Homo sapiens: one gene and its partners. The protein of the gene in region 1 purifies or fractionates together with the protein of each later gene. This does not show direct contact. Each region holds a gene or a part of one and is shown in the gene's direction. Other genes may lie near its edges.

The links. The genes of interacting proteins can lie anywhere in the genome.
Region 2: the proteins of GPI (region 1) and PGM1 fractionate together in Homo sapiens (co-fractionation; 2 studies listed by BioGRID). This does not show direct contact.
Region 3: the proteins of GPI (region 1) and ACO2 purify together in Homo sapiens (affinity purification with mass spectrometry; 2 studies listed by BioGRID, with this or other methods). This does not show direct contact.

What each region holds. Positions count from the first base shown.
Region 1 is NC_000019.10:34,388,986-34,397,007, forward strand, and holds part of GPI (glucose-6-phosphate isomerase), read left to right. Parts: intron 1-4,262; coding exon 4,263-4,323; intron 4,324-4,742; coding exon 4,743-4,786; intron 4,787-4,928; coding exon 4,929-5,081; intron 5,082-7,315; coding exon 7,316-7,445; intron 7,446-7,595; coding exon 7,596-7,672; intron 7,673-8,022. UniProt on the Homo sapiens protein: In the cytoplasm, catalyzes the conversion of glucose-6-phosphate to fructose-6-phosphate, the second step in glycolysis, and the reverse reaction during gluconeogenesis.
Region 2 is NC_000001.11:63,651,957-63,659,978, forward strand, and holds part of PGM1 (phosphoglucomutase-1), read left to right. Parts: intron 1-2,375; coding exon 2,376-2,510; intron 2,511-7,629; coding exon 7,630-7,719; 3' UTR 7,720-8,022. UniProt on the Homo sapiens protein: Catalyzes the reversible isomerization of alpha-D-glucose 1-phosphate to alpha-D-glucose 6-phosphate. The mechanism proceeds via the intermediate compound alpha-D-glucose 1,6-bisphosphate.
Region 3 is NC_000022.11:41,506,663-41,514,684, forward strand, and holds part of ACO2 (aconitate hydratase, mitochondrial precursor), read left to right. Parts: intron 1-1,128; coding exon 1,129-1,387; intron 1,388-5,213; coding exon 5,214-5,306; intron 5,307-8,022. UniProt on the Homo sapiens protein: Catalyzes the isomerization of citrate to isocitrate via cis-aconitate.

The sequences.
Region 1 (8,022 bases):
GGGAGGCTGAGATGGGAGGATCACTTGAGCCCAGGAGTTTGAGGCTGCGGTGAGCTGTGATCATGCCACTGCACTCCACCTGGGCAACAGAGCAAGACCCTGTCTCTTAAAAAAAAAAGAAAAAAATAGAACTGCATCTGTTAGATGAGATGTGAGAGCCTATGTCAAGCATGATGTAGTCTGTAGGACTGCGTCTGTCAGGTAAGGTTCCCGGAAACCCAGAGCCTTTCCAAGTGAGTGGCCCCACCGGTCATCTCATTGCCCAAGCCAGAAACCTCTCGGCCACACTGGAGAGCTCCCAGAATGAGTCCTCTGCACTCCCCAGTCCATCTCCGGGGCTTCAAAGTGGCTTGTTTGCTTCTGTCCTTGTCTTAGCCGCAGACTGTTCTCAGTCCTCCCACCGTGCCTCTCAGCTTCCACCCTGCGGTCCCCACCCCTTCCTTTATCCTCTGGAAGGTGCTATGCTTCCCCCTGCCTCAGTGGGCTTCCAGGAGAGAATTAAGCCCTCACAGCCCAAGGCATCTACTGGATGTAATAAGTGGGCACCTCTCCTTCGTGTCTAGAAGGTTACTAGTCTTGGACCATCCTTGGGAGAACTGAGAAGTCACTCAGATCATTTTCTGTGGGCCTTAATTCTGTCACGCTTGAGAAAGACTGCTTTGGCCACGGGACCTTTGCATGTGCTGTTATGGCTGCTGGAATGCTCCCTCAGTGCTTCTCTGGGTCATGCCTGCTCGTTCTTGAGATCAAGGGTCAAGTACCCCTCAGGTTCCTTTTATAAGTGGCCTCAGCACCATGTTCCAATTTCTCCTCAGCACTTGTTTCTCAGTTTCACATTTATTGGCATGATTATTTGATGTACGTCTCTCTCCCACACTCTGTGTCCGTTGCCTGTGCTAGAAATGTGGGAGGTGCTCCATAAACAGCTGTTAGGAAGACATCCGTGAAGTTCTGAGGACTCTGATGGCACCAAGTGGAGCTTGCAGGTGTGGCTTGAGAAGGTGCAGTGTGAATGATAGGCCTAGGTGATAGGCCGAGAAGATCGGTCAAGCCCAGATATGACCCACTGGGCCTGTCAGTGTCCAGGAGGTGGGGTGAGGCACAGGTCTAAGGTTCTGGATCTGTCAGTACCACCTGAGGAGTTGGGAATGGGCACAGGTACAAAGTGATGAGTCTTCATTGTTCAACAAAGAATGGCACAGGTGTGAGGATCTGGGTTTGTCAGTATCTGAGGATGTGGGGCCTGGCACAAGTATGAGGCACTGGGCCACTGTTCAAGCAGGTGGGCTGGGGAACAGAAATGTAGCTGTGGGTTTTTAATATCTGAGGAGACCTAGCCAAGTGTAGCAGAGAGCTGCTGGGTCTTTCATTGTCCAAGGAAGCATACCTGGGCACAAGTATGAGACTGAGAAGGTGGGTCCTGGCACCGGTAAGGGGCTCTGGGTCTGCAAGTGTCTATGGAAGTAGGGCCTGGTACAGGTATGTGGTGCTGGAAGAGGTATCCAAGGAGGTGGGCTAAGTACAGGTATGACATCTGGGTCTTCCAGTGTGTGAGGAGGTAGGATCTGGTACAAGTATGAGGCCCTGGGTCTGCTGGTGTCTGAGGAGATAACAGCAGGTTACAGGTATGAGGCCCTGGGTCTGCTGGTGTCTGAGGAGGTAACATCTAGTACAGGTATGAAATCTGGGTCTTCCTGTGTCTGAGAAGGTAGCACCTGGCACAGGTATGAGGATCTGGGTCTTCCCAATGTTTGAGGAGGTAGCATCTGGCACAGGTATGAGGATATGGGTCTTCCATGTCTGAGGAGGTAGCACCTGGCACAGGTATGAGAATCTGGGTCTTCCAGTGTCTGAGGAGGTAGCACCTGGCACAGGTATGAGTATCTGGGTCTTCCCGTGTCTGAGGAGGTAGCACCTGGCACAGGTATGAGGATCTGGGTCTTCCTGTGTCTGAGGAGGTAGCACCTGGCACAGGTATGAGGATCTGGGTCTTCCCGTGTCTGAGTAGGTAGCACCTGGCACAGGTATGAGGATATGGGTCTTCCATGTCTGAGGAGGTAGCACCTGGCACAGATATGAGGATCTGCGTCTTCCAGTGTTTGAGGAGGTGAGTTTGGACTCAGGTTTGAGGCCCTTGGGCTTCCAGTGCCTGAGGAGATAGCATCTGGCACAGGTATGAAGCCCTGAGTCTTCTAGTGTCTGGGGAAGTGAGGCTGGGTACAAGTATGAGGATCTGTGTCCATCAGTATCTGAGGAGGTGGGATCGGGTCCTGGTATGAGGATCTGGGTCTGTCCATGTCTAAGGAGGTAAGATCTGGCCCTGGTATGAGGATCTAGGACTGTCCATGTCTGAGGAGTTACCATCTGGTACAGGAATGAGGATCTGGGTCTGTCAATATCAGAGGAGGTAGGAATCTGGTACAGGTATGAGGATCTGCGTCTGTCAAAGTCTGAGGAGTTACCATCTGGTACAGGAATGAGGAGATGTGTCTTCCAGTGACTTAGGAGGTACGATCTCTTATAGGTATGAGGATCTGGGTCTGTCAATGTCTGAGGAGGTAGGATCTGGCCCTGGTATGAGAATCCGGGTCTGTCCATGTCTGAGCAGGTAGGATGTGTCCCTGGTATGAGGATCCGGGTCTGTCAATTTCTGAAGAGGTGGGAATTTGGTACATGTATGAGGATCTGGGTCTGTCAGTATCTGAGGAGGTAGGATCTGGTACAGTTGTGAGGATCTGGGTCTTCGGGTGTCTGAGGAGGTGGCATTTGGCACAGGTATGAGAATCTGGATCTTCTAGTGTCTGAGGAGGTGGGATCTGGTATTAATTATGAGAATCTGGTTCTGTCAGTGACTGAGGAGGTAGGATCTGGCATAAGCATGAGGATCTGGGTCTGTCAATGTCTGAGGAGGCAGTATCTGGTACAGGTATGAGGATCTGGGTCTGTCATGTCTGGAGGTAAGATCTGGCATGAGTATGAGGATTTGGTTCTGTTCATGTCTGAGGAGGTAGGATCTGGTGCAGGTATAAGGATCTGGGTCTTTCAATGTCTGAGAAGGTAGGATCTGGTACAGGTGTGAGGATCTGGGTCTGTTAATGTCTGAGGAGGTAGGATCTGGCACTGGTAAGAGGATCTGCATCTGTCAGTTTCTGAGGAGGTAGGATCTGGCCCTAGTAAGAAGATCTCAGTCTGTCAATTTCTGAGGAGGTTGGATCTGGCCCCCTTATGAGGATCTGAGTCTGTCAATATCTGAAGAGGTAGGAATCTGGTACAGGTATGAGGATCTGTGTGTGTGTCAGTGTCTGAGGAATTAGGAATCTGGTACAGGTGTGAGGATCTTCATGTCTCTGTATCTGAGGAAGTAGGATCTGATACAGGTATTAGGATCTGGGTCTATGTCTGAGGAGGTAGCATCTGATACAGGTATGAAGACCTGAGTCTGTCAGTGTCTGAAGTGGTTGGATCTGGCCCTGGTATGAGGATCTGGGTTTGTCAGTATTTGAGGAGGTAGGATCTGTCCCTGGTAGGAGGGTCTGTGTCTTCTAGTGTCTGAAGAAGTAGGATCTGGCCCTGGTATGAGGATCTGGGTCTGTCAGTATCTGAGGAGGTAGGATCTCATACAGGTATGAGGATCTGGGTTTTTCAATGTCTGAGGAGGTAGGATCTGGCACAGGCATGAGCATCTGGGTCTGACCATGTCTAAAGAGTTGAAGCTGTGTGCAGGTATGAGGCCTTGGGTCTGCCAGTGTCTGGGGAGGTGAGGCTGGGCATGGGTGTGAGACCCTGGGTCTGTCCATATCTGAGGAGGTAGGATCTGGTATGAGTATGAGGATCTGGGTGTGTCCGTGTCTGAGGAGGTGGGCCCTGGCACAGGTATGAGGCCTGGGGTCTGTCCGTGTCTGAGGAGGTGGGCCCTGGCGCAGGTATGAGGCCCTGGGTGTGTCCGTGTCTGAGGAGGTGGGCCCTGGCACAGGTATGAGGTCCTGGGTCTGCTGGTGTCTGCAGAGACAGGGCCCGACATCTCAGGGAAGACCACGGTAAGCTCTTCAGTTTGTCTTGTGGCTGTGGTCAGTCATCTGTAGTCTGCCCTGTTGGTCTTCCCATGTGTTGCCAGCACCTGCCTGCTGCCTTGCTTCCTGGAGGTGGGTTGGGCCAGGGCCCTCCGAGACGCCCCTGTGCAAGACCAGGGACAGGGTTTCCGGCAGGAGGTGGGGGGCGGGGTGTGCCGGCCCTCCCTCAGCACCTTGTCCTGTCTCTCCTAGTGGGTGGGAGGACGCTACTCGCTGTGGTCGGCCATCGGACTCTCCATTGCCCTGCACGTGGGTGAGTGTGTTTCTGTGTCTTGCAGCCCCTGTGGGAGACAGTGTTGCAGTCTAAGGTCGGGGTAGGGGGCTTGTGTCCCTGAACATCATGCTGTCCTCACAGGCTGCTGGCCTCTCTGCAGCTGGCTGGGATATTTATTTCATGTCCAGAAGGAAGGTCTGGGTTTTTTTGCGTGTGCAAGTTGGCCCCCGTCTTTGCCCCTCACAACTGCAGTCCTGTTTCTCTCCTATCCTAGGCAGAGTCAGATCCCTGCACTCAGGGCCACCTCTCACTGGAGGGGCTTTGTCTAGGTCCGAGTCCTCCCATGTCGTATCTTCTGGCTCTCCATGCAGCCTTCCTTCGTTGCAGAAGGAGCTGTGCCCACTGCCCACAGGACGCAGGGTGTGGCCACTTCTGTTGACTCTGCTTTTGTGTCACAGGTTTTGACAACTTCGAGCAGCTGCTCTCGGGGGCTCACTGGATGGTGAGTGCTGAGGCTGGTTCTCTGCCAAGTGCTGGCCAGAGGCGCGTGTGTTGGTCCTGGTCCCCCGCTTTCTCCCCCACTGTCCTGTCCCTCCCCTCCCCGTGCAGCTGCTCAGCTCCCACTCATCCTGCTCCTGTTTCAGGACCAGCACTTCCGCACGACGCCCCTGGAGAAGAACGCCCCCGTCTTGCTGGCCCTGCTGGGTATCTGGTACATCAACTGCTTTGGGTGTGAGACACACGCCATGCTGCCCTATGACCAGTACCTGCACCGCTTTGCTGCGTACTTCCAGCAGGTACCAGCTGCCAAGCCAGGCCTTGGAGTCAGCAAGATTTGTGGGGGGTCTGGGAGGTCTAGGAACCTGGGTTTCAGCTCCTCCAGGAGCTCTTTGCCCCATTGCCCTTGGGCCTGGCCAAGGTCCATCTGTGCTCCTTGTCTCAGGATGAATCTTTGTAACTGAGGTTGGTTCCATTTGAGTGTCATCTGAGTTTGATCACCATGGGAGGGGCATGACTGGTGATCATGGTGCCCTGGCTAGGGAGGTCCTGGCTTGACTCAGGGGATGTTTCTCAGCTGGGGTCACTTCTTTCTTGCACATCACTATGCATGCCTACCATAGTGTCTGAGGACGTAGGATCTAGCCCTGGTATGAGGCCCTAGGTCTGTTAGTATCTGGGGAGGAAGGATCTGGTACAGGTATGAGGACCTGGGTCTGTCCATGTCTGAGGAGGTGGGATTTGGCCATAGGGTGGGGCTGCAAGCTGGAATCCCTTATAGCCTGCACTGCCTTTATCCCTCCAGAAAAGCAAGTGTGTATCTAGTCTGTGGTGGCCTCTTTGGACTACATGGCCCTCTTCTCCCTTGGGATCTCCAGAGCCCCCCGAGAGGCTTAGCAGGCCCTCTCCTAGTCACATTATGTCCCAGAAAGCTTTTCCACACCTGTCCCTGCTTTTTTTTTTTTGAACAGATTCTCACTCTGTTTCCCAGGCAGGAGTGCAGTGGCGCGATCTCGGCTCATTGCAACCTCCGCTTCCTGAGTTCAAGCAATTCCTGTGCCTCAGCCTCCCGAGTAGCTGGGATTGCAGGCATGCACCACCTTGCCTGGCTAATTTTTGTATTTTTAGTGGAAACGGGGTTTCACTATGTTGCCCAGGCTGGTTTCGAACTCCTGGCCTCAAGCGATCCACCTGCCTTGGCCTCCCAAAGTGCTGGGATTACAGGCATGAGCCACCATGCCCAACCCTATCCTTGCTTTTGTTTAGTACAAAGCCAGTCCCTGTCCAGCAGCTCTTGAGTTGCTCTGGGCAGGTACAGAAGGCTTCACCAACACCTGGAAGCAAATCCTGTGACTGAAGGAGAGGCCAAGGTTCCCCAAATCCCAGCTGCCTTGGTGAGGGTTGCCATGACCAGGGCCCAGGTGGGTACCCAAAGCCTAGCATTTAGTTGTGGTGACAGCCCTCAAAGGCTGTACTCTTAGCCAGGCATGGTGGCTGATGCCTGCAATCCCAGCACCTTGGGAGGCAGAGGCTGGGGGGAATTGCTTGAGCCCAGGAGTTCAAGACCAGCCTGGGCAACGTAGTGAGGCCCGGTCTCTACAAAAAAAACCCACAAAAACTAACAGTAGCCAGGCATGGTGGTGCGGCACCTATAGTCCCAGCTACTTGGGAGGCTGAGGCAAGAGGCTTGCTTGAGCCCAAGAGGTCGAGGCTTCAGTGAGCAATGATTCTACCACTGTACTCCAGCCTGAGTGACAGAGTGAGACTCTGTCTCTTTGGGAAAAAAAGAAGCTGTGCACTCTGGACCCCAGCCTGCTCTCCCTTAAGAAATGAGCTGATTTTGTGACCGATTTTGTCTTTAGGGAGGTCCTTGCCTGACCTCCAGACCCACCTTTTCCTGGGCATGAGTCCTTCCTGCACAGTGGCTTAAGCAGGAAAGGTTGGGAGGCTGTGTCCTCACTGGTGTGGGGAGGAAGGGGATCGTGCCTGTGGACACGTGTGCAGGTCCACCTCACGGTGTCAGGGCAGGGTGGGTCTGCCTGGAGCATCTGGGCAGGACTTTGGCATGGTGCAGGAAGGAGCAGGATTTGCGTACAGTGTGTGAAGGATCAAGACTTGCAGGAAGAGGGTTGGGTTTTTTTTCTTTCTTTTCCTTTCTTTTCCTTTTTTTTTTTTTTTCTTTTTTTTTGAGTTGGAGTTTTGCTCTTGTTGCCCAGTCTGGAGTGCAGTGGCATGATCTCGGCTCACCACAACCTCCGCCTCCCGGGTTCAAGCGATTCTCCTGCCTCAGCCTCCCAAGCAGCTGGGATTACAGGCATGCGCCATCACACCTGGCTAATTTTGTATTTTTAGTAGAGACAGGGTTTCTCCATGTTAATCAGGCTGGTCTCAAACTTCCAACCTCAGGTGATCCGCCTGCCTTGGCCTCCCAAAGTGCTGGAATTACAGGCTTGAGCCACTGCGCTCAGCCTCTTTCTTTCTTTTTAAATGTTCTTTCATTTTGCCAAGAACTGGGTTTCTGTTCCTTTTCCAGGGCGACATGGAGTCCAATGGGAAATACATCACCAAATCTGGAACCCGTGTGGACCACCAGACAGGCCCCATTGTGTGGGGGGAGCCAGGGACCAATGGCCAGCATGCTTTTTACCAGCTCATCCACCAAGGTAGGCCCCTGTGGCCTGGGAAGGGTGATGTTGGGGGAGGGAAAGGATCTTCCAGAAGAGATATCTCACTTAGGTCAGTGCCCTCCTCTAGGCCATATGGCTAGCTCCCATGGGCTGGGGTCATGTGGGTGACCACAGTGCCCTTCACAGGCACCAAGATGATACCCTGTGACTTCCTCATCCCGGTCCAGACCCAGCACCCCATACGGAAGGGTCTGCATCACAAGGTAAGAGCCCCCATCTGGCCCCATCTGGGGGGTCTGGCTCACATTGCACCCAGACCTCTGAAAACCTGGTGCATTGGTTGGCAATCACGTTAGTTTTCTATTCCTGCCGTAACAAATGATAACAAACATGGAGGCTTAAAACAACACTCTTCTTTTGTGGGGTGGGGAGGGGGGACAGAGTCTTGCTCTGTCGCCCAGGCTGGAGTGCAGTGGCACGATCTTGGCTCACTGCAACCTTCCCCTCCCGGCCTCAAGTGATTCTTATGCCTCAGCCTCCCAAGTAGCTGGGACTACTGGCACTCACCACCATGGCCAGCTAATTTTTGTAGTTTTGGTAAAGGGGGGGTTTC
Region 2 (8,022 bases), on another chromosome or scaffold:
GCTGTGTTTTTCTAGGGTAGCTGTTCTTACCTGGTTTTCTGCTGTCCCACGTGACTCTCACATGCACTCGTTGGGACAGTGGTTTATGCCCTTGTTCTGTGCACTGTCCAGTACCCTCATTCTGGGATTCTTAACCTGGACTCCAGAGGGATTTTTGCACTCTCTGGAATGATATGCAAGATGATGTGTCCATTGTACATGCAGAAAGGAGCCCCAGAATCTAAGAAAGAGGGAGAACTGTGGGAACTTAGATGTCAACTCCTCTCTTTTCTGTCAGCAGATTATAGCAGAGTGACAGCATGTAAGTGGCATTATACTTATACGTTTCTCTCGTATGTTCTAATTTCTAAAGGAGAGAAAAATAGATGAGGCATTCCCAGACTTAGAAACGTTGACCATCGTCATTCGCAGCACATGAGTGGCACCCCACCTAACACAGCAGTACCTGGCAAGACGCCACAGTTTAGGACCTGGAGCATCTCTAGATGTGGACAGAATTGTTAGTGCTTCCCTTACTGTGTGCCGGGTACCCTAGGCTGCAGGCTGGGTCAGGCTTTCTCCTGGCTTCTCATGAACACTTACGCACCAGGGTTCTCTCACCTCTGCTTCTGTTGCCTGTTGTCACAGAGTAAACTCATCTCTCACAATTCATAATAGAATAAAGAGCAGGATGAAGATTCTGTTACAACCTCCCAGTTTACTTTTTTCCAATTGACCCAGATTTTTGGCCTGGTCCTTGTCAAGGCATCTCATAGGGTTTGGAAGGGCCGGGCCGTGGGATTTACTGGAGGCTTCCCTCTGGGGAGCAGGCAGTGAATGGATGGATGGGCCACAGCAACCCTCAGTGCCTGGAGTCTCCCCTCCTCAACTTCTAGCACAAGTGGTTTCTCATCCTTGTGCCTGTTTGCCATTTGTGAGAACTTGGGGTCCAGTTTGGATGATTGTAAATTATGCCTGAGATAATTAGAAGAGAGACCTGTGGTTGAGGAAGAAAGGGGTGTAGAAAAGGAGTGGAGCTGAGGGATGGCAGAGTGGGACAGAAGTTTGTGTCATTAAGCCTTCAGAGACAGAAGGGAAGTCAAGGAAAAGTAAATCCCAGCTCTGCAGTGCCTCTGGCATCTGCCAGGAGGGAGAAGAGGTGTAAAGGTGTGTATAGGAGACAGTGGCCTAAGCTCGAGAGCTGCCCTCTGTGCTGTAAAGAAAGCAGCTGCCCCACTTTCTGTAATCAGAAAATCCAAGCATTTTGATGTGAGACCAGATAGGAGGGAAAAATATGATCCAACATATATAGATAGAACATCTGCAATCTAGTGAAAAGAATTTTAGAGGCTTCAAGTTGAAGCTGTGAAGAAAGGAGACCAACCCTGGTGTGTTCCTAGAAAGCAAGAAATGGTCAGTGAAAATGGACCGTATCCTTCCCATAGTGACTAACTGTGGCATATCCTCTGTGTATTTCATCTACTGTCTTCACTAATCAGTGCTAATGAATGGCACCATTAAACACCAGATGGGGATTGGTGACGAACAGCAGGTGAAGAGCAGCATCTTTTTGGTCAGTCTTTGGTGTTATGCAAGGTTCTCCTTTTTACAGAGGATGGATAGACTCATAAAGACTGAAGAGTCCTCAGGCAACTTCTGTCCCAGCCTTCTTCCCTCAGGTTGGGAAATATCTACCCCAGAGTTCCCACACATTTTTCCCCAAGTGAGAAGATAATTGATGTCCAGAGATACCGCTGGGGAGGAAAAAGAGAGGGCAGCAGAGAGAAGGATGGGCTTGGCACTTCACACGGACCTCGCTTTGGGTCCATCAGGGATTGGCAGGAGATTGGCCACTGGCTCCTGCTTGTTAGGTTGGGAATAGCCAGTCTCTGCCATTTGGGACCTCTGACTTCCTGTTCTCTTTTGAGGACCTTTGCTAGTGGTTTGTAAGAGTCCTTCCCCTCATCTGCCTGAAACCTCTTCAGCTCTGGTTTCAGCCCCTTTGGTCCATGTTTCCCTCTTGATCTGGGGGCTGAATTTTTGCATCTAGCAGCTTTATGTGCTTCATTATTAAGCTTCAAACTGGAATGGTTAGTCCATAAATCACAGGGAAGTGGGGAGAGGAGGGAAGCCCTCACATCACCCAGCATCACTGAGGTCAGGTCTCCCCTGACCCTGGAAATGCTTCTCCCACCGTAGCTAAGCCCCCATCAGCTGGATGCAGAGAGGGTGACGGAAGGCAGGCTCACAAGGTGCAGCTGCTGCCATTTATCAAGGATTTAACCCTCCAATGAACAAGTATGGATGAAATTACATCCCCAAATAGACCCCTCATAATTTGCCAGCCTTCAGTCTCCCAGCATTTGGGGAAAAAAATCTCTGCTTATCTTTTCCAGGGCTTGCGCCTCATTTTCACAGATGGTTCTCGAATCGTCTTCCGACTGAGCGGCACTGGGAGTGCCGGGGCCACCATTCGGCTGTACATCGATAGCTATGAGAAGGACGTTGCCAAGATTAACCAGGACCCCCAGGTAACGCCCAGCCCTGTGCCCTGGTTAGTTCTTTCTGTTCAAGGGAATGATAGTTTCCCATTGAGCCTGTGTTTCAATGCCCATTTCTCAAATGACTCAACAAGGTACCAGCTGTGCTTACTTTCTTCCATGTTTCTTTCTCCATGTCAACATTATAGATAATAATTATAATAATAAAAATAGGGAGGCTGAGGTGGGAGGATCACCTGAGCCCAGGAGGTCAAGCCTGCAGTGAGCCAAGATCACACCACTGCACTTCAGCCTGAGCAAGAGTGAGACCTTATATCAAAAATTAATTAATTAATTAATTAAAAATAAAAAATTTTCTGAGCATTTATGGTTTGCCAGGCTGTGTTGTAAGCCCATTATGAAAATATACTCATTTAATTCTCAAATAACTTAGACTGTTATTCTCCCTGCTACAGATAAGGAAACTGAGGCACAGAAAAGTTAAGCAACAGTTAATAGGTTTACATGCCTAGTAAGGATAATGAATCTCTCTTTTTTTTTTTTTTTTTTTGAGACAGGGTCTCACTCTGTTGCCCAGGCTGGAGTGCAATGGCACAATCTCAGCTCACTGCAACATCCACCTTCTGGGCTCAAGCAATCCTCCTACCTCAGCTACCTGAGTAGCTCGGATTACAGGCACGTGCCACCATGCTCTGCTCATTTCCTTTTTTTTTTTTTTCTTTTTGTAGGGAGGAGGTCTTAGTACATTGCCTAGGCTGGTCTTGAATTCCTAGCCTCAAGTAATCCTCCTACCTCAGCCTCCCAAAGTGCTGGGATTATATGTGTGAGCCACTGCACCCAACCCAGGATAATTGGTCTTTAAATCAGCCCCTCATCTGGTGTTCTGCTCTGTCTGCAGCATTTTGTTGCTTTGTTTGGTCTGATCACCTGCTTGGGCAGAACACACCACTGGGTCTTAGATTTGGTGGGGGCAGGGAGAGGCAGTTTCATGTGTCTTCACAGAACAGTCTGCAGACCTGCAGCTTGGTAAGCTGGGTTCCTCAGCCATTCCCCCAAAAGTCTTCAGAAGTATATCAGAGTAAGGAGGGACTCTGGGAGCAAAGGGTGGGACAGTGAACTTGAAGGACAACCCCCAAAAATGGAGGAGCCAAGGGGAAGCAGTGAAGGACAGGACAGTTTCTTTAAGTGTTTTTCACAATCCTTATCTCAACCAGAGCTCCATAGCTTAAAAAAAAGTTGGGGAAGTGTTGTGGTATATTAGCCCCTTCTTGGTGATTCACAGCATACAATGCAATGCACCATAAAGGCTCCAAGATTTCGGACATGGTGGCCTGCACCTGTGGTCCCAGCTACTCAGGAAGCTGAGGCAGGAAGATCACTTGAGCGTAGGAGTTCTGGGCTATAGTGTGCTATGCCTGTCGGGTGTCTGCACTAAGTTTGGCATCAATATGGTACCTCCCGAGAGGGGAACCACCAGGTTGCATAAGGAGGGGTGAACCGGCCCAAGTTGGAAACAGAGCAGGTCAAAACTCCCATGCCGATGAGTAGTGGGATTGCACCTGTGAATACCCACTGCGCTTCAGCCTGGTGACATAGCAAGACCCCATCTCTAAAAAAAGAAAAGGAAAGAAAAAAAGAGGGTGCTGAGAAGACTTGCAGTAAAGGTGCCTGTTTACATAGCATTTGCTGAAGGACATTTCTCCAAAGAAAACATACAAATGGCCAACAGGCGTATGAAAAGGTGGTCCACATCACTAATCATCAGGGAAATGAAAATCAAAACCACAATGAGCTGTCACCTCACACCTGTTAGGATGGCTGTTCTCAAAAAGACAAAAGATAACAAGTGTTGGGAAGGATGTGGAGAAAAGGGAACCATCAGACACTATTGGTGGGAATATAAATTGGTATAGCTATTTTGGAATAACCAAAATATGGAGGTTCCTCAAAAAGTTAAAAATATTTTAGTACTAATATACGATCCAGTAATCCCTCTTCTGGGTATATATTCAGAGGAACTGAAATAAATATGTCAAAGAGATATCTGTTCTCTCTTGTTCATTCAATATTATTCACAATAGTCAAGATATGGAACCAGCCTAAGTGCCCATCTACAGATGAATGAAGACATTGTGGTGTGTGTGTGTGTGTGTGTGTGTGTGTGTGTGTGTATACCACAATGGAAAATTATTCTGCCTTAAAACAACAAAAACCAAAATCTTGCCAATCTTGCCATTTGCAATAACATGGATGAACCTGGAGGACATTATGCTAAGTGAAATAAGCCAGACACAGAAAGGCAAATACTGCATGATTTCACTTGTATGTGGGATCTAAAAAAAGTGAATCTCATAGAAACAGAGCAGAAAGGGGCTTACTAGGGGGTAGTGAATGGGGAAAATGGAGAGATATTGGTCCAAAGGGTACAAAATTTCAGTTATGTAGGATGTAGCAGTTCTAGAGATGGAATGTACAACATGATGGCTATAATGAATAACACTTGAAATGTACTAGGAGAATAGATCTTAATTGTTCTCACTATCACCACCACAACAAAAAAGGTAAGTAGGTGACAAGATTGATAATGTTAGTTGGCTTGACTCTAGTAATCAGTTCACTATGTATTTGTATATCAAGACATCATATTATATACCTTAAACATAAACAATTTTTATTAAAAAATTGAAAGTAAAATAAAATAAATAGCATTTGCCATGCTTATTTTTCCACAAAGGCTTTTTTCTTTTAACACCTAATTAAAATCCTGTGAAACTCATTTGGAAACCCCTGGCATAGTGGTTTTGAGCAAAGTTAAAGAGATCTTGTTTTAAATTCTATTCCTGCCACTTAATAACTGTGTGTCCCTGGGTAAGTTGTTACAATTTTATGAATCTTGGTTTCCTTGTCTGTCAAATGGCAGAGTAATACCTACTTCATCTAGTTGTTACCGGGGTTTAAGGAGATAATAAATGTAAAATGTTTAAACACTGTGGCTGGCATATAGGATTAACTTTTCAGAATAAGCAGCACTCTTAGTTTTTTTAGTCTAACTTTAAGTGTAACATAATGCTATTATAACCATTTTTAAGTATATAGTTTAGTAATGTTGTACATATTCATATTGTTGTCCAACGTATCTCTAAAACTTTTTTCCCCCAAAACTAAAACTCTGTACCCATTGAACAGCACCTCCCTGCTTCTCCCTTTTCACAATCCCTGGTACCACCTTTCTCCTTCCTGTGTCTGTGAATTTGACCATTGTAGGTACCTCACATGAGTAGTATAGTTGCTTTTATTACAGAAAGTGGGAGATGAGAGAATGCTTCACTTTTACATTTTTTCCAGTGGCCAGGCCCCAGTTTCAGTCATCACCAGTACCTTGTTGTGTTGTAGGCATCCCTAAAACTTCAACCAAAGGCAATGGGGTCTGCATTATAGACACTTAATAGCACAAGAGAAAAGGAAGAAGGAAATTGTGTTTGTCTTTTGATCATCAAGATAAATGCCTGGCACGTGGTAGATTCAAAGAGTGAATGAAATTTGTTTCCTCTGAACCATAGTCCTCAGCAGGTGGAATGGCAGTGGATGGTGTGAGGTTCCCACAATGCCCAGGTGTATCACCATCTAGCCGGGGAGCTGCCTTTCCTTATTCTGCAGCTGCTAGGCCATCAGCACTTTGTGGGGACTGCCCAAGCCCTAAGGGGAAATGTGGTAGTTTCAGCAGGTGGAGTTGATTCTCCTTTTCCAGGTATAATGGATCGGTGGAGATTTAGATAAGAAAAAGTAGCATTCAGCAGTAGAAAATGTACTACTCCTGGCTCTGCTATTGAGTCATTTAGTCAAATCACTTCATCTCTTTGGGTATCAGTTTTCTCATCTGTAAAATGGGCAGTTCAACCAGATTAGTAGTTTTTTTTTTTTTTTAATATTGAAAGCATTTATTAAGCAACAGAATTCTCTCTTTTTTTTTTTTTTCTTTAAGCGAGAAGTAGATGTGGGGAGGGGTTGTTGCATTTTTAAAGATTCCTGTATTAGGCCGGGTGCGGTGGCTCACGCCTGTAATCCCAACACTTTGGGAGGCCAAGGCAGGCAGATCACCTGAGGTCGGGAGTTCAAGACCAGCCTGACCAACATGGAGAAACCCCATCTCTACTAAAAATACAAAATTAGCCGGGCGTGGTGGCGCATGCCTGTAATCCCAGTCACTAGAGAGGCTGAGGCAGGAGAATTGCTTGAACCTGGGAGCCAGAGATTGTGGTGAGCCAAGATCGCAGCATTGCACTCCAGCCTGGGCAACAAGAGTGAAACTCCATCTCAAAAAAAAAAAAAAAAGATTCCTGTATTAGTCTGTTTTCACACTGCTGATAAAGACATACCTGAGACTGGGCAATTTACAAAAGAAAGAGGTTTAATTGGACTTACACTTCACGTGGCTGGGGAAGCCTCACAATCATGGTGGAAGGCAAGAAAGAGCAAGTCATGTCTTACATGAATGGCAGCAGGCAAAAGAGAGAAATTGTGCAGGGAAACTCCTGTTTTTAAAACCATTAGATCTCATGAGACCCATTCACTATCATGAGAACAGCACAGAAAAGACCCACCCCCATGATTCAATCATCTCCCACCGGGTCCCTCCCACAACACTTGGGAATTATGGGAGCTACAAGATGAGATTTGAGTGGGGACACAGAGCCAAACCACATCAGTCCCATTGGGAACAGTGTGGGAAAGAAATTGGAAGATGCACAAGTGGATGTGGAGGCACTCACTGCTCCAGGTAAGAGACAGGACATTGACTTAGCAAGACTTAACAGCAGGAGAGTGGAGAGAAAAGGGGGCCATGGAGAGAGATTTAGCGGGGAAAAGTCATTGAGGCCTGCTCATGGACTGGGCATGGGGAAAATGCAGAGGAAGATGTCAGGAGCAACTCCTAGTTGTTCACTTTACATGAAAGACTGTAGTGTTGATCCACTGAAATAGAAACTGCTGGAACTAGGTATTGGGGGAAATAACATGTGTTTGTTTTTGGATTTGTGGAGTTTGAGGAGCCTTGGAGACCTGGAAGTAGGCAGTCAGACGTACGGGTTTGGAGCTAAGCATCTGTGTTTAGAGGAAGTGATGGAAAAGCTTCTCTCTATGTCTTCCTCAGGTCATGTTGGCCCCCCTTATTTCCATTGCTCTGAAAGTGTCCCAGCTGCAGGAGAGGACGGGACGCACTGCACCCACTGTCATCACCTAAGAAGACAGGCCTGATGTGGTACGTCCCTCCACCCCCGGACCCATCCAAGTCATCTGATTGAAGAGCATGACAGAAACAAAATGTATTCACCAAGCATTTTAGGATTTGACTTTTTCACTAACCAGTTGACGAGCAGTGCATTTACAAGGCACTGCCAAACAAGATGCCCTTGGGAGCTGTGAGGGAAAGAGGACCTGCGGGCTTAGATCAATCTCAATTCCTTTTCATGCCCTCCTGCATTGCTGCTGCGTGGGTATTTGTCTCCTTAGCCATCAGGTACAGTTTACACTACAATGTAAGCTA
Region 3 (8,022 bases), on another chromosome or scaffold:
GTGAGCCACCACACCAGGCCCCCAGGTCAGGGTTAAACTCAGAGCTTCTGACTCCCAGTCTGAAACTTTTTTCTTGGCCTCAAACAATAGGACAGAGCCTGTCAGGTGTGGGTTGAACTCTGCTCCTCCTTAGGAAGGAAGTCTCAAGCTTGGCCTAAGCTTTGAGAATTCTGGGGGGCAGAGCGTGAGGTCTGAAAGGGGCTGTTGTGGCAGGCAGGGCGGCCACAACAGCCCCTTTGCTCTGTTGTGTGGGTGCAGCCGGGAGTCAGCCGGAACGTTGAGCCTGGCAGGGAGAGTGGACCCGCGCAGAGCTCAGTCTAGATGGCTGGGAGGCTTGTGGGGAGAAGACGGTTGAGTCCTGACAGGGCCGGACCCCAGGGCAGGTTTGGACTGCCATTTTGGCTCTGATGAGGAAGGGAGGGGTGGGGCCTCCGGGGAAATGGGGTCTAGGAGGAGGAGGAGCTGTGAGAGGCCAGTGGCAGTGACCCGGTCTCTGTTCTTGAAAACTGACAGATACTCCTGTCTATGTCTGGAGCTAATGGGCAAAGTCTTAGTGTCATAGTTGGGTAGCCAGGCATCCCAGGCCTGAGGTGTGGAGGGTTGTAGATGGCGGACAGGGTGGACAGGTGAAGGGGATGCTGGTCCTGATTCCCTGTGCCTTAGTGGGGCTGAGGGCACAGAGGGAAGTAGCGAAATCTAGCTGTGAACTTGGTCACTCTCCTGAGCCTGTTTCTTGGTTGTTGTTAAATGGCTTTCTTGGTTGTTGTTGTTGTTAAATGGCAGGAATGATGAGATATGCATGTTGCGGGGACTTAGTAGGAATTACGATGCTGGGAAAGCCAGGATCCTTTGAAAAGAACCAGCGCTGCCCTCTTGTGATGTTGTCATTCACTTACTCATCAAGTAATTGTGGAGCACCTAACAAGTGCCAGGTGCTGCAGGAGGTGAGGAGGTGGTGCAGTGAACAGGACCCAGCAGTCCCCACCCAAGTGGAACGTTGAGGTCCTGAGTTCAGACTCCCTGTCCCTGGCCACTGTTGAGGTTGCCACATGGACTGAGAGGGAGAGGCAGGGCGGGAGGAGGCCGTGCAGCTAGCACCAGGCCACCCTTCTGCTCTTCTCCCCACAGACTGAACCGGCCGCTGACACTCTCGGAGAAGATTGTGTATGGACACCTGGATGACCCCGCCAGCCAGGAAATTGAGCGAGGCAAGTCGTACCTGCGGCTGCGGCCGGACCGTGTGGCCATGCAGGATGCGACGGCCCAGATGGCCATGCTCCAGTTCATCAGCAGCGGGCTGTCCAAGGTGGCTGTGCCATCCACCATCCACTGTGACCATCTGATTGAAGCCCAGGTTGGGGGCGAGAAAGACCTGCGCCGGGCCAAGGTGAGCAGAAGGTGGCTTTGGGGGTGGGCAAGTGGGCAAGACTGGGCGAGAGGCCTCACCCTCACACTGGAGCAAACCAGGGCATTGCCTCCAAATTCTCACACCTCTTTGGATTGGTCTGCTTTTAAAACTTGATTTTACTTGTTTCTCTTTCTAAAAATAGCACTTGCTCATTATGTTAAAAAATACAGAGGAAGCCTAAAGAAAGAAAAAATCATCCTTGACCTTACCACACTGCAGGTCCTTTTTCTGTCCTGTTGGAGGATGATGTGGATCCTGCCAGGTGCTCTGGAAGGGGCCATGCAGGCCTCCCTGTCTGCCTGAGCAGTGAGGGGTGCATCTTAGCATAGTTTGCCAGCATCCCATTTGCACCCACTCCCGCTCTCCTCTGACCCTCCAAGGACCCTCTCCGGGAGGTAGGCGTGCTAGGGTCACTATTTGTAAATTTGAGGCGGCAGTGGCATCATACTTGAGTTCTGTAACTACATGAGGGCACGATTAGGGCTCAATGCTGATCCTGGCTCCCACTCTGGTGCTCTGTCACTGAGGAGCCTCCTTTGGGGGCCATTCTTCTGTGAGTTTTGCTTAACTACATGGGGGTGGCTGTATGCCATGCTGAAGGCTTTTCCCCCACCCTTCTATGAAATCGAGTTCCTGCTCCTTCTCCCAGGCTCGGCTTGTGGGACCTTTGTGTCAGCCTGCTCTTGGCAACAGCGGGCCTCTCTCTCCCAGCTCTGGGCCTCCCCACTCTCCAGCCCCTGCAGTGGGAGTGGGTCCCCCTCACGGGGAGGGGCGTTGGCAGGAGCTGAATGCTGGCAGGGCTGCGGCCTGTGGGCATGTGATTGAAAGTGCTCCAGCTCCCAGGGTCAGCATGGCTCAAAGCCTCCCAGCCCCATGGGAAACACTCGGGGCGGCGCTCTCACTCAGACCCTCTCTTCCACCCTGGCCCCCTGGTGGTATCCTGGCTCCACAGTGGCTCTTTCCCCTCAGCTGAAAGGACAGTCCTGCCTGCCGGCCGGCGGTTTCCACATTAGCAACAACACTGGTGGGGGTAATAATGTTACAGGAGCTCCCACAGTGCCGGGAACTGCACATGGCCGGGAACGTGGGTCCTCTGCAGCCCTGGGGACAGCTGCCCACAACAGGGCTGCTACCTTCTGGGGCTGGCTTTCTGCTTGCTTTATGGGCTCAGAGTGAATCTTCTGGAGATGAGATGCACACTCATAGCATTCAGAGCTCATTCCCTCATGCGTTCAACAAATTGAACATTCTTTATGTGCCAGGCACTGGGCTAGGTACTGAGGTTCAGTGTGAACAAGTCAGGCAGGGGCCCTGCCTTCAGGGATCTGCTTGTGGGTGTGGACACTAAACAATGGCCGAGGTAGGTAACTGCAGATCTGGGTATGTGTTAGGAAGGGAAAGTGCGGGACTTGGTCAGTATAAAAAAGAGGTCTAATTTAGATGCTGGGGGAAAGAGAGAGCTTCTTTGAGGATGTGACAGATAACCTGAGGACTGAACATATGAGTTGCATTGACTGGAGGAAGAACATGCTAGAAAGAACAGCATTTGCAAAGACCCTGAGCCAGGAAGAAACTTGATGCTTTTGTGGAAGTGAGAGGGGGCCTGTACTGCTGGAGTTCTCTGTGTTTGGAAGAGCGGGTGGTATGAGGTGGGCAGGGGCAGCCAGGAACGCGAGGGCTGTGGGAACGCTATGGTCACCATCCTCAGAGTCCTAGAACAGTTTAAGCGGAGAAAGAATATGGTCTTTTTTTTTTTTTTTTTTTTGAGACAGAGTCTTGCTCTATCCCCCAGGCTGGAGTGCAGTGACACACAATCTCGGCTCACTGCAATCTCGGCTCACTGCAACCTCCGCCTCCTGGGTTCAAGCGATTCTCATGCCTCAGCCTCCCGAGTAGCTGGGATTACAGGCACCCACCACCATACCTGGCTAATTTTTGTATTTTTACTAGAGACAGGGTTTCACCACGTTGGCCAGGCTGGTTTCAAACTCCTGACCTCAGGTGATCCACCCACCTCGGCCTCCCAAAGTGCTGGGATTATAGGTGTGAGCCACCACGCCCGGCCTAGAATGTGGTCATTATTACGTGTATTTGTAAAGTGTCCCTCTGGCTAGGGCTCAGAGGCAGTGACCTGTCTAGGGTCACAGAACCAGAGATGGATCCAGGCTGAGTCCAGGCCGAGACTCTGGCACCAGTCTGGGGTCCTCCCACACCCCTTCCTCACACTTAACACAGACGTGTAGTCACATGCGCCCAGACACGACCACAGCCTCCTGTCCTGGATACCAATTTCATAAGTGACCGATTTGTAAATGAAAAAGCTGATGTATTAATTATTAATTGGAAAGAGACTGCTCTGGAAACCCACGTTCTTTGCCATTCTCTTACCTGGGGGAACCCAGTGGGCCTTCAGAGGGCACACACTGGTCTGGAGTTTCAGTGAAGGGGTGTGTGGTTTGAGTGTATCTCATCAAGGGTCCGAGGGCACTGGCTGAGGTCCCTTCTCTGAAGCATCGCTCTCCCATGCCGGAGGCTGGCAGGTCCCATTTCCTAGTTCCTCCTTTGAGACTCAGTAGAGTCCACTAGAATCCCACCGTTTTGTTACTGGGGTCAGTCTCACTGACCCCACACAGGGACCTCCCATGTCTTCCAGATAAACCCTGGCCTCACATCTGCTGTGCAGTGGGCCCTTCCCTGTCCCTCAAGGAAGCTTCCTTCAGATTATAGGCAGGATGGCTACAGCCCGTGTCATCATTTCGTTTGGCTGAAACCTCCTTTTCAGAACAGTGGTCCCTTCGACAGCCTTCCATTTGGGCCCATCAAACACATTACCAAGAATTCAGCACTTCCGACAGTCAGACACCAGTCCAGGGGGCTCTCTCAGGTGTCGTCTAAGCCTGGGATCTCCAGCAAGTTATTTCAAAAAAAGCCTCTGGGGTTTTTGTTTTGTTTTGAGGCAGGGTCTTGCCCTGTCACTCAGGCTGGAGTGTAGTGGTGCGATCTCGGCTCATTGCAGCCTTGAACTCCTGGGCTCAAGTGATCTTCCTGCCTCGGCCTGCAAGTAGCTGGGACCGCAGGTGCACAGCTAATTTTTATTTATTTTATTCTTATTTTTATTTTTTGAGACAGTCTCGCTCTGTCTTGTAGGCTGGAGTGCAGTGGCACGATCTCGGCTCATTGCATCCTTGTCTCCCAGGTTCAACCAATTCTTGTGCCTCAGCCTCCCGAGTAACTGGAATTACAGGTGTGCACTACCATGCCTGGCTAATTTTTGTATTTTTAGTAGAGACAGGGTTTCGCCATGTTGGCCAGGCTGGTCTTGAACTCCTGACCTCAAGTGATCTGCCTGCCTCAGCCTCCCAAAGTGTTGGGATTACAGGCGTGAGCCACTGCACCCAGCCACTGCGCCTAGGCCAGGGCCTGCCTCTGCACTGCTGGCCTCATCTGGGGACTTGAGTGCCACAGGCACTCTTGGCAATTATTTAGACCAGTCCCTTCTCCAGATAAGGAAACTGAGACCCAGACCAGGGCAGGGACTTGTTCCAGACCCACCACCCTGGCCAGGTGTCACAGAACTGGGGCTCCATCTCTGCTCCCCTGTCCTTCTCTCTGACACTGCTAGTGGAGACTGGGCCAACATCCAAGCTCTTTGGAATTATTTTTAGAAGGTCTCTAAGAGAGGGCCTGTCTCCAGTGCCAGTATTTCAGAGTCAGAAGGGAGGCTGATGGGGTGGGGAGGGCTTGGTGAGGGTCACCTGGACACAAACCATGTTGCTAACGCCCAATTATTGATTTGTCTCAATAGGACATCAACCAGGAAGTTTATAATTTCCTGGCAACTGCAGGTGCCAAATATGGCGTGGGCTTCTGGAAGCCTGGATCTGGAATCATTCACCAGGTAAAGCTGGGCTCAGTCTGCCGTCCCAAGGGCCCAAGCCAGAGAAGTATGTTCCAGGCCTATGGGGGGAGGGGGTTTGAGGCCCAGGGGGGCTGAGGGGAACTGGATGACATATCCATCAGCTCTTATGCTCTTCCTCCTTTGTTTTGAAACTGATTTTCATTATGTCATTATACGTGCTCATTTTCTGGGTGAGAAGTTAAAATAATACCTCCTAACCACCCAGGTAACCAGCATTTTAAGTGCGACATGTTTCTTTCCACATTGTCTTCTGGGTGTGTACTCAAGCATCTCTATTCCCATAAACTCTCATACAGAACATGGTATTATTTTGTTTTTTTTCACAAGTGTCACCCCTTGTGGCATGCATCACTGACATTTGATGAGCCCATACTGTGTCTCAGGTACTAGGCTGAGCACTTGAAAGATATTTGCCATGCCCTGTGAGGTAGGTGCTTTTACTATCCACACCCTACAGAGGAGGCAGCTGAGGCACAGAGATGTTAACCTTCTTGCCCAGGGACACCTAGCTGGCTTACTGTGGAGCCAGGCCTGTGGGCAGGAGGGCTGGTCTGGAGCGAGTGCCCCATGCCACCGTGCTGCTCTGCCGCCTCCCTCGCCCCCAGAGCTCTTTCTGCTTCTGCACGTGGCGCTCCTCGGATTTCTTTTTGGCTCCTTCATGGTGTTCTGTAGGGTGAAGGTACCATAGGTCATGTGGCCATGTCAGCCGGGGGCTCCTCTGAGGTGTCCCAAGGATGGATCTTCTTTTGGTGGACAGTTGGACAGTTTTGTCTCTGGAAGTGCAAGTGTGAACGTGTATATCCTGGGGAGGTGGGTGCTTCCCTTTCTTCCAAGGGCACTGTTAGGGACCACTGACCTAGTTTGTGTCCATTTACATCCACCCTGTATGTATGAAACCTGCCTCTTCGCACCTTTGCAAGGTGGCCCTTCCCCCCACCTCCATCCCAGACCTCACTGTCCTGGCCTCCTCAGGATGTGCTGAGTCAGGCTGTAATCTGACGCCGCATGGGCTCCCAGCACCGCCCCGCTCTGAAACCAGAGCCAGCAGGGGATCACTCCTCTGCCCTGCCCAACCATCACTCTTGCCAGGAAGGGGCTGCGTGGAATGGCCGTTTGCAGCGGCCTGTGGGGACTAGAAAGCCCCTCTCTGCAGCAGGGTTAGGGAGTCAGGTGGACCCAGTCTTGGCCTTCTGTTACAAAGGGCACTGCAATGCAGGTGTCTCCCTTTCTACCTCAGTACAAATGCCCAGGCCTTTATGGCAGCTCCTGGGCCAAAGTTTGGAGCCGTGAGTGATGGCAGCTCACATCTGCCACCGGCTAGCTGCTAAGCATACAGCAGCTCGTGTGTTTGTTTCTTTAAAAAGAAAATGCCCAGGGGCCATGGGAGTACTTTGCAGCTTTACTTTCTTCCCGCCTTGATGTCACGTCTTCAGCAGCCTCAGTCCATTAGGTCCAACCCAAACCTGAACCCCTTTCCCTCTGGGAAGTGCCCTGGCCCCACTTGGCCCGCAGACCTTCCTCCACATCACAGCTTTCTGGTTCCTCTGTGGAGCCTCCCCGGCCCTCCCCGTGCCTGGCACAGTGGCTTCCAGTGGATCCTCTGTGGGATCTCTTCACATTATGTTCCAGCATCTGCCAAGTGCTTTCTGCACTGGATCATGTGCTCTGTGGGGACAGGGACTGTGGCTTATTTATTCCTCTCTAGCTCTGGGTTTGGGACCAGGTCAGTACAGAGCAGGTCCTTAATGTATGTGTGTGTTGTGTGGATGGATGGCTGAATTTCCAGGTGTAGTTCTAGGCATTAGTCCTTCTTCCCAGCCCTCACCCCCATCTGTCCAGCCACACCCACAGACCGGGGAGCTCACTGTCACGGCCAGCGTCATCGTGACATCTTCTGCAGTCCTCATGTCTGCCTGACCTCTCCCCCTGGATGTGGACCACAAGTGTCTACACCGTGTGGACCACAAGTGTCTACACCGTGTAGACCACCCCGAATTCTGTGTGCCCAGCCTTCGTGGATCCAACTTTTACAAGCTTGAGGCTCTTTAGGGATGCACTAGTCTTAAATCCTTGTACGTGGCAGCATTGGCCAGTTCTTCGCAGCCAGGTCTTCCCTCTGCATCCCCAAGAGATGAGACCTTTGGACCTTAGAGTCTGCTAGGCAGATGCTTGTCCTGAGGCAGAGGCCCTGGGGTTTCTGTAAGATTTCTGGGAGCACTGGTGGGTCCTGAGAGTTCACAGAGCCTGTCACACCTCTCATGTGTTCTTCCCCACATCCCCGGGTGGGGCACTAACTCCATCTGACTGATGAGCGGCAGAACCTCAGGTGAAGGCTCTTGCTGCAAAACAATAAATAAAAATGTTGCTTCCCGCAGGCACTATTCTGTGCCTCATGGACAGGATCTCATCCAGTCATCAGTGAACCAATGATGTGAGCACGATTGTTAGCTATTTCTTGATAGGGAAACTGAGCTCCGAGAGAAGTGACTTGTCCATGGTCCCACAACAACTAGTAGATGGTGGGGCCAGACCTCAGACCCCCCGATACAGGACGCCTGGCTCAGGGCTTGCCAAGCAGTGTCCTGCAGCTTCAGGGGGCCAGTGCCTCAGAGGTGCCTGGTGCCTGGGCCACACTTGGGTGTTGAGCCTATACAGCACCCAAGGTGTTGAGCACTTGGGTGTTGAGGTGTTGCTG